Homo sapiens: one gene and its partner. The protein of the gene in region 1 interacts with the protein of each later gene in a pairwise test. Each region holds a gene or a part of one and is shown on either strand. Other genes may lie near its edges. The genes, in order: DCPS and CDC27.

Region 1 (3,819 bases):
TGTGGGCTCATCTGCAGAAGGTCTAAGGCAGAGAACACAGATTCTTAGAACTCTGGCAGGAAAGAATGTTCATGGCATGTAAAGACCATGGCATAGTTGGATATCAGCCAGTCATATAGAAAAGCCCATCCTGAATTTTCAATTTGAGGCCCCAGGAAATGTGGTTGGGTGAGTCATGGTCCTCAAATTATCTTCACAAGGAATCTGGTAGCTCAGACTGCAGGGCAGGGCACTGCTGGGTTCTCCCCGTGCCTGGCCCCTCAGAGCCTTGATGTCTGGGGCCTTCCAGGCGCATGGATGGAATTACCAGGCAAGGCCAGGGTTTAGGTGAGCAGGGTGGGTTTTCTCAGCAAGAGGAAGAGTTCATTTGCTCTCTGGCACAAGATCTTGACTTTGATTCTTTGTACTGTTGTGACCTCCAGGTTTTCAGCCAGGTTGTGCTCAGGAAGGACAGCAGGAAGGTATCCTGTGCGATAGGGGAAGAGAGAAACAAGCTAACTGCCCTGGTGTTGTGTGTGCTGCTGAGCTGGCCCTTGGCTCCCTTCTCAGCCTTCAGACCCCACTCCACCCCTTCATGGGCCTTGACTCCAAACAAATCAAGTTGCTTCCTCTCCCCTTCCGTATACATTCTATGCCCTATACATTCTTGCCTCCGAGTCTTTGCTCTGTTTCCTCTACCTGAATACCCTTTCTCCAAATTCTACCTTTTTTCTAGACCTGATCCTCTGCCTTCTCTTCCAGGAGGCCTTCCTGGGTTCATCCAGGTAGCTAGAGTCTTTCCTTCCTCCTGCACTGGGATTATTTTGTGTCTTACAGTAGAGCTACTTGCATACATGCGATAAGACTGTAAACTCTCGGAGGGAGAGAGTTGCCCTTGCTCTTTCTTGAACCTCCTGGCTCCCTGCCCCGACAGCTCTGGGGAGTGAGCATATAGAACTCTCTGCTGGGCGCGGTGGCTCACGCCTGTAATCCCAGCACTTTGGGAGGCCGAGGCAGGCGGATCATGAAGTCAGGAGTTTGAGACCAGCCTGGCCAATATGGTGAAACCCCATCTCTACTAAAAATATAAAGAGCATGGTGGCACGCACCTGTAGTCCCAGCTACTTGGGAGGCTGAGGCAGAAGAATCGCTTGAACCCAGGAGGCGGAGGTTGCAGTGAGCCAAGATTGCGCCACTGCACTCCAGCCTGGGCGACAGAGCGAGACTCTGTCAAAAAAAAAAAAAAAAAAAAGGACTCTCACATGGTATTCTCTAGCAAGAAGCGTACACAGTAGGCCTGCTCCTTAAGACCATCCCACACGCCCGGGGTATGCAGATGCCCTGCGGGGTTTCTCCTGGTGCTGTAGGCCTCAGGGGTGGGTGCTTCCTGGCTTACGTGAGAACTCCAGGGTTGGCAGCCTCCCCAGGTCTGTTCCCTGCTGAGCCTGGTCTCCCCTTGCTCTCTACGCAGCTCGATGACTTGTACTTGATCGCCATCTGCCATCGCCGGGGCATCAGATCCCTACGCGACCTTACTCCGGAGCACTTGCCGCTGCTCAGGAACATCCTCCACCAGGGGCAGGTGAGTGGCTTCACCAAACCACGTGGAAGCTCAGAGAAATTAGACTCAGATTCCAGTGTGTTCCTGGGCCCCTTTCCTCACCTTTCCCAGAGTCCATCTTGGAGAGACTTCTCTCTGGATGCCAGTCTTGGGGACCCCATTAGGCTCTTGAGGTTGAAGAGCAGGGCTCTTTGTCCCTGGTCCTGCCACCTTTCCTCACCCTCACACGCCTTCCTCGGCCTTTCTCCATCTGGGATGCACTTCCACCCCTCACCCCATAGACTCTGGTCCTTAAGTCCTGGCCCCTCCTACTCCAGGATCACCTGTCTCTCTCATGACAACCATGACAACCACATCATGCCAGAGTTTCTTGGGAGTATGGGCACATGACTTCGATATGTGTGTACACGTGTGTCTCCTTGTCTAGATTGAAGACAGGCTGAATTCTGTAGCACCTGGTGTTCTGGGATACTTTCTCTCTGGGATATTTGTTGAATTGAATGAAATTATCGGGGCTCTAAACAGAGCCCAGGAGCACGGGGAGATGGGGGAAGAGTGTCTAGAATCTTGGGTGTGGTCCTGGCCTGACATTTGGACCCTAACCAGCTGAGTGGCCTGGGGCAGGTCACTTCACCTCCCTAAACCACATTATCTAGATGGATCCCTTCTAAATCCACCATCCTAAGGGGCTGGGTCTGAGTCTTTTTTCCACTCTGAAATGTGATGCTCTGCCTAACACGCCAGAGCTAGCAGTCACAACGATGCCCAGCCAGGAGAGAGGTTTGCCCCTTTTTGACCAGTGATGCTTCGAGGTGTTAATGCAGACCTGGAGGCAAGGCTCTGCCCATACCCAGCTTCCCCTGCTGCTGGGCCCCGATCTATCTTCCCTCCTGCTCACCCACGGCACCACCCCTTGGCTGCCTTTATCTTTGTGGGGTGACTTGTTCAGATCCTGAAGCAGTCTCTGGATATTACAAATGGCAAAGAATGGTGTCTTTCTCTTGGGGAGATGCCAGGCCAACACTTTGACCTGCCCTAGCAGCTCAGACAGCTCCACCCTGGCAGACAGACCTCACTTACTCCAGGAAGCCCCTCGGGTGCCTTGGCCCTGGTCTCGCCCCGCTGCAGGGATTCCTGGGGTGAGCTCCAAATGCAGAACACAGTTCTGGGGTATATACTGAGCCCACTGAGGCCCTAGTACTTTTCTCTTCACCTCTGACCACCTCAGGGATTTGCCCACAATGGAGATGAGAGTCTCCGCTTAATTCTATGCCTCACAGCCTCCTGAAGGTGGAGGTTGGTAGAAAAAGACCCACCCCTGAGCAAGGTGGAGGTGGGCAAAGGGAGCCAGGGCCAAAGTCAATGCTTTCCTCTTCTGCAAGGAGCCCGCTGAGACTTCGCCAGGTCTGTGTGGGAGCAGCCCCTCCCATACCCCTTCCACAGTCCCTGCTCTTTCACCAAGTTCTCAGCATAGCCCCATCCCCAACTTCATTGTTTCCAAGCTCCACCCTGTGCTATGCTAAAAGAGAGAATGAGGCTTCCTCCCATCCACTTCATGACTGATGAAATGCTTCTAAATCATGAAAGTCCCCATAGTCTTGGGAATCTGGGGCCTGTCTGTAGACACTGGGCCTTCCAAGATTCCCAGCAGCAACTGTTTGAGGAAGCCAGTGTTTTTTCCACGTTGGGGTGGGGAATGCTGATTGAGGCCGCTCCCCACTTCTTTTGGGAGAGTCTCAGCTTTGCTGCTGTCACCTGCACTTGTGGATTTCCTAGACTAGAAGACAGAGGAAGCTGAAGCAGACAGCAGGTAGAGAGCTGTTTGGAGGGTTTTTGTGAGCTGTCCCAGGCCAATCCAGGATTCAGATGGGAGGAGGGTCTAGGTGGGGACATGGCGCCGGGCCTCAGGCAGCACGGTGACTCCTGACCTGCCTGCCCCTGTCTCATCAGGAGGCCATCCTGCAGCGCTACCGGATGAAGGGAGACCATCTGCGAGTATACCTGCACTACCTGCCCTCCTACTACCACCTGCATGTGCACTTCACCGCCCTGGGCTTCGAGGCCCCCGGCTCAGGCGTGGAGCGGGCCCACCTGCTGGCTGAGGTGATCGAGAACTTGGAGTGTGACCCTAGGCACTACCAGCAGCGCACGCTCACCTTCGCCCTCAGGGCTGACGACCCCCTGCTCAAGCTCTTGCAGGAGGCTCAGCAAAGCTGAATTAACTCAGGCAGAAGAGCACAGATGTGTGGGATTGGGGGAGGAGTGGGGACAAGATTTTT
Region 2 (3,819 bases), on another chromosome or scaffold:
TGGGCGACAAAGAACTAGTGAAACTGAGAAATTATTTCAAGAATTTGACTTACAGAAGATCCTACTGATCAACTGCTTTAGCCTCATGCCTTGTTGGATGTCTTTCTCCAAATATAGAAACTGCTACTAGTGACATAGGAGGCCCCTGAGCAAACAGGTTACATCTAGCATATCAACTGATATTGTCCACCAAGAAAACTGTTGCCAAGAATTCTGAGGTTGGTTCAGTGGGAATGAGTACTGTAATGGATTAGTGATGCCTACTATGGTTGCAAATCAGAGAAGTGGTAATTGCTACTCTTGGGAAAGCGGAATCAGACAGATTACTAGTTACCGCCTGTGGACATTAGTCTCAGTTCTTCATCCAGAAAATGGCAATAGCAATGTCTATTTGATAGGATTATTGAAGATTAAATTAGTAACTAATATTAAATACTTAGAGTACCTAGTATACAGTAAGAAATCAATAAGTGATAGAATTATTGTTATTATTACTGAGCCAGGATAGTATCTGCTCTTACTACACTTAATTCTAAAATCTTTCCTCATATAAATATGGTTAAACCGAATGGTGAGGTTCTATATTGAAAGAAACTAACATTTACTGAGCAACTTTCCAAGTGCCAAGCATTGTATCAGGTACATAAATAACGTGGATTAAACAGCTTTATGTGGACTAATCTGGGAATCTTGCCACCAATTCTATGGGAAAATCTAATTGAATTCTAAACCATGAATTTACAATTTTTAAGAGCCTAACTATAATAAACTAGAAACTGCCTATTCTTTAATAATAAACAAAAACAAAAAGGAAATACTAGAAATAGAAGACAGTGGCCGAGTACAGTGGCTCACATCTGTAACTCCAGCTCTTTGGGAGGCTGAGGCAGGAGGATCACTTCAGTCCAGGAGTTCAAGGCTGCAGTGAGCTATGATTGTGCCACTGTACTCTAGCCTGGGCGACAGAGTGAGATTCTGACTCAACAAAAATTTTTAAAAATACAGCAAAATATGGGGCCTGCCTAGGTATCAATGAAAATATTTTTAAATAGATTATTCACAATAAACATCACTTTTGCATAAGTGAATGGAGTAGATTAATCTATTGTATAATCTTCTTTCTAAGCCTTCCATTCCTTCTCACCTTTCTAATCTTTTCATTGGGACCTTAAACTCCTGCTGCCCAGATCTTCCTCACTTTTCTCACTGAATTCCCATTCTCCACCGAGGAGACAGCTCTCTCACATGGACAGTAATCACCTTACATCCCACTATCTCAGAGTCAAGGTAAGGCTGGTTTCCACTTAACTTCTCAAAACTACTTCCAAGCATTGCTCTTTGTCCTTTTGTGAAATTTCCTGCCCCTGAGGTTTAGGCCTTGTTCTCACAACTCTCAGCTACTAAACCCATACTGTTTGACTTGTAAATTCCATTTAAAAGTACATAACCCAAGGAAATGACTCAAAAAAAAAAAAAAGCTGTACACAATGATCTATATCAGCATCTTAGAAAGGGAATTATAATAATGACAGAAACAAAACATACATTATCAGTGGTGTTTATTAAGCATTGATTACCAAGCCAGATGGCTGTGCTAAGGGCTTTAAATAAACCATCTCATTGAATTTTTAATTCTAAGGGGCAATGATTATTTTATAGATGAAATATCTGAATTTTCAGATATTAAAGTAACTCGTCCAAGGTTATAAAACTGTACATTTAAGTGACAGGTTAGGATTTGTTCCAAGGCTATAGAGTCTAAATCCATGTTCTTCACCATAGAATACAGACTCTTTTCTTAAAAAAAAAAAAAAAAAAAAAAAATACATGGCATGGTGGCCCATGAGTATAATCCCAGCACTTTGGGAGGCCAAGGCAGGTGGATCACCTAAGCTCAGGAATTTGAGACCAGCCTGGGCAACATAGCAAAACCCTATCTCTACCAAAAAAAAAAAAAAAATTAGCCAGGCGTGGTGGTCCGTGCCTGCGGTCCCAGCTACTTGGGAGGCTGATGTGGGAGGATCGCTTGAGCCTGGGAGGTAGAGGTTGCAGTGAGCTGAGATGGTCCCACTGTACTCCAACATGGGTGACAGAGTGAGACCCTGTTTCAAAAAAAAAAAAAAAAAAAAAAAAAAAAAAAACCCAAAACAACAAAAACCCTGGGGGAAAAAAAAACCTAAAGATTGAAAAATGATTAAGTAAATCATAGCATATAAACCTGAATCAATTCTACATAGTTATTAAAAGTAGTATGTAAGGGAACTACACAGAAAAAAAGTAAAGATTTTATGAACTAGTGTCAATCAGAAAAACAACAAGATGATGATAGCTAGAATCTTGTTACAGTGATAAAAAGTTATGGAATTTCATATATGTTATTCATTTATCATTCTACAGCAATGAATAGATTTCAAACCTTCTGCATAAAGGCGTTCTGCGAGGAAAACCGCATCTCGGTAAGCATAGTGGTTTAGTGCTTGCCATATAGCAGCCTGCAAATGGAGGAAAAAGAACATAAATATACATACATACAGACTTTCAAGGTAACTACTAGCACACAGCCTTACATCAAATACTGAAATTAATATCCCTAATTTAAGTGATAAAACCCCAATGCCCACAGAGCAAACTCCAGAGTGTGCCGGGCAAGGCTCTTCACAGTATGGCTCCTAACATATCTGAATTTCCTCACTCAACTCTCTATGGACTTTTAGGCTTCTGTGCCTTTGTACACCCTTTTCCTCCATTGGGCAATGTGGGCTCCCCTCACCAGTCTCCCCTTATAAACTGCTCGTCCCTAAAGATCCAGCTTAAATAACATCTGCCCCATAAAGCTTTCCTGGCTGATGTCAAGCCATTTCTTTTTTAAGATACCTCTTCTAGTAGAGCACTCATAACATGGTTATTTGTTAACAGGACTGCCAACCCTACTAAACTACAGACTTTTAGCAGCAGTGGTTCTCAACCACTTTATGTGATATACATGACAGAGATATTAAAATGTATGTCATCCTCCCACAAAAACTTCCCTATCTATTACCTTTAATGCCACTCAATTCTCATCCACTCCAGGAAGCATATTGGAATGCAAATGAGTAAAGTTATCATAGGAATAACTTTTAATTTTTTGAATATATGTTTTCTCTTTTAGAATTACAAAACATATAACCTAAAGTATATATGAGATAGAAGGACATTTTAAGTAACAATAACCAAAGACATTTAGGCCCATGTACTCACCACCCAGCTTAAGAAATAAAATATCTCTGAAACTCCCTGTGTGTTCCTTGTTGATACCAAAACCTCTCCCTGCCCCAAAGAGGAAACCACCACACTGAATTTTCTTGACCTTTCTCTTGGTTTTCTTCACAATTTTATACATTTGTACATATCATCTCTAAGCAGTATAACATTTACTTTTTCCTGTTTTTGAACTTTAAATAAATACAATCATATTGTATACATTCTGCTACGATTTGCTTTTGAAATCCAATGTTTTGAAAATTCATTCTTGATGTGTGTAGCTAGAGTTCATTTGTTTTCATTGCTGAATAAATAATATTTCCATTGTATAAACATATCAAAATCCAAAATGTATTTTATCTATTTTACAGCATGTGGACATTTGGGTTATTTCTAGGGTGTTTTTTTGTTTTGTTTTGTTTTTCCAATTATAACAATGCTGCAACAGTCTTAGATTCATCTCCTGGGGTATATATTTAAGAATCTCTCCAGCCTATCACGGTGGTGTGAGCCTTTAGTCCCAGCGACTCAGAAGGCTGAGCTGGGAAGACTGCTTGAGTCCAGGAGTTCAAGGCT

Evidence for each region.
Region 2: the proteins of DCPS (region 1) and CDC27 interact in a two-hybrid assay, tested with the Homo sapiens proteins (one large-scale study listed by BioGRID and IntAct).

Annotation. Positions count from the first base shown.
Region 1 is NC_000011.10:126,341,857-126,345,675, forward strand, and holds part of DCPS (m7GpppX diphosphatase), read left to right. Parts: exon of another isoform or gene 1-466; intron 467-1,450; coding exon 1,451-1,561; intron 1,562-3,490; coding exon 3,491-3,757; 3' UTR 3,758-3,819. UniProt on the Homo sapiens protein: Decapping scavenger enzyme that catalyzes the cleavage of a residual cap structure following the degradation of mRNAs by the 3'->5' exosome-mediated mRNA decay pathway.
Region 2 is NC_000017.11:47,179,146-47,182,964, forward strand, and holds part of CDC27 (cell division cycle protein 27 homolog), read right to left. Parts: intron 2,493-3,819; coding exon 2,417-2,492; intron 1-2,416. UniProt on the Homo sapiens protein: Component of the anaphase promoting complex/cyclosome (APC/C), a cell cycle-regulated E3 ubiquitin ligase that controls progression through mitosis and the G1 phase of the cell cycle.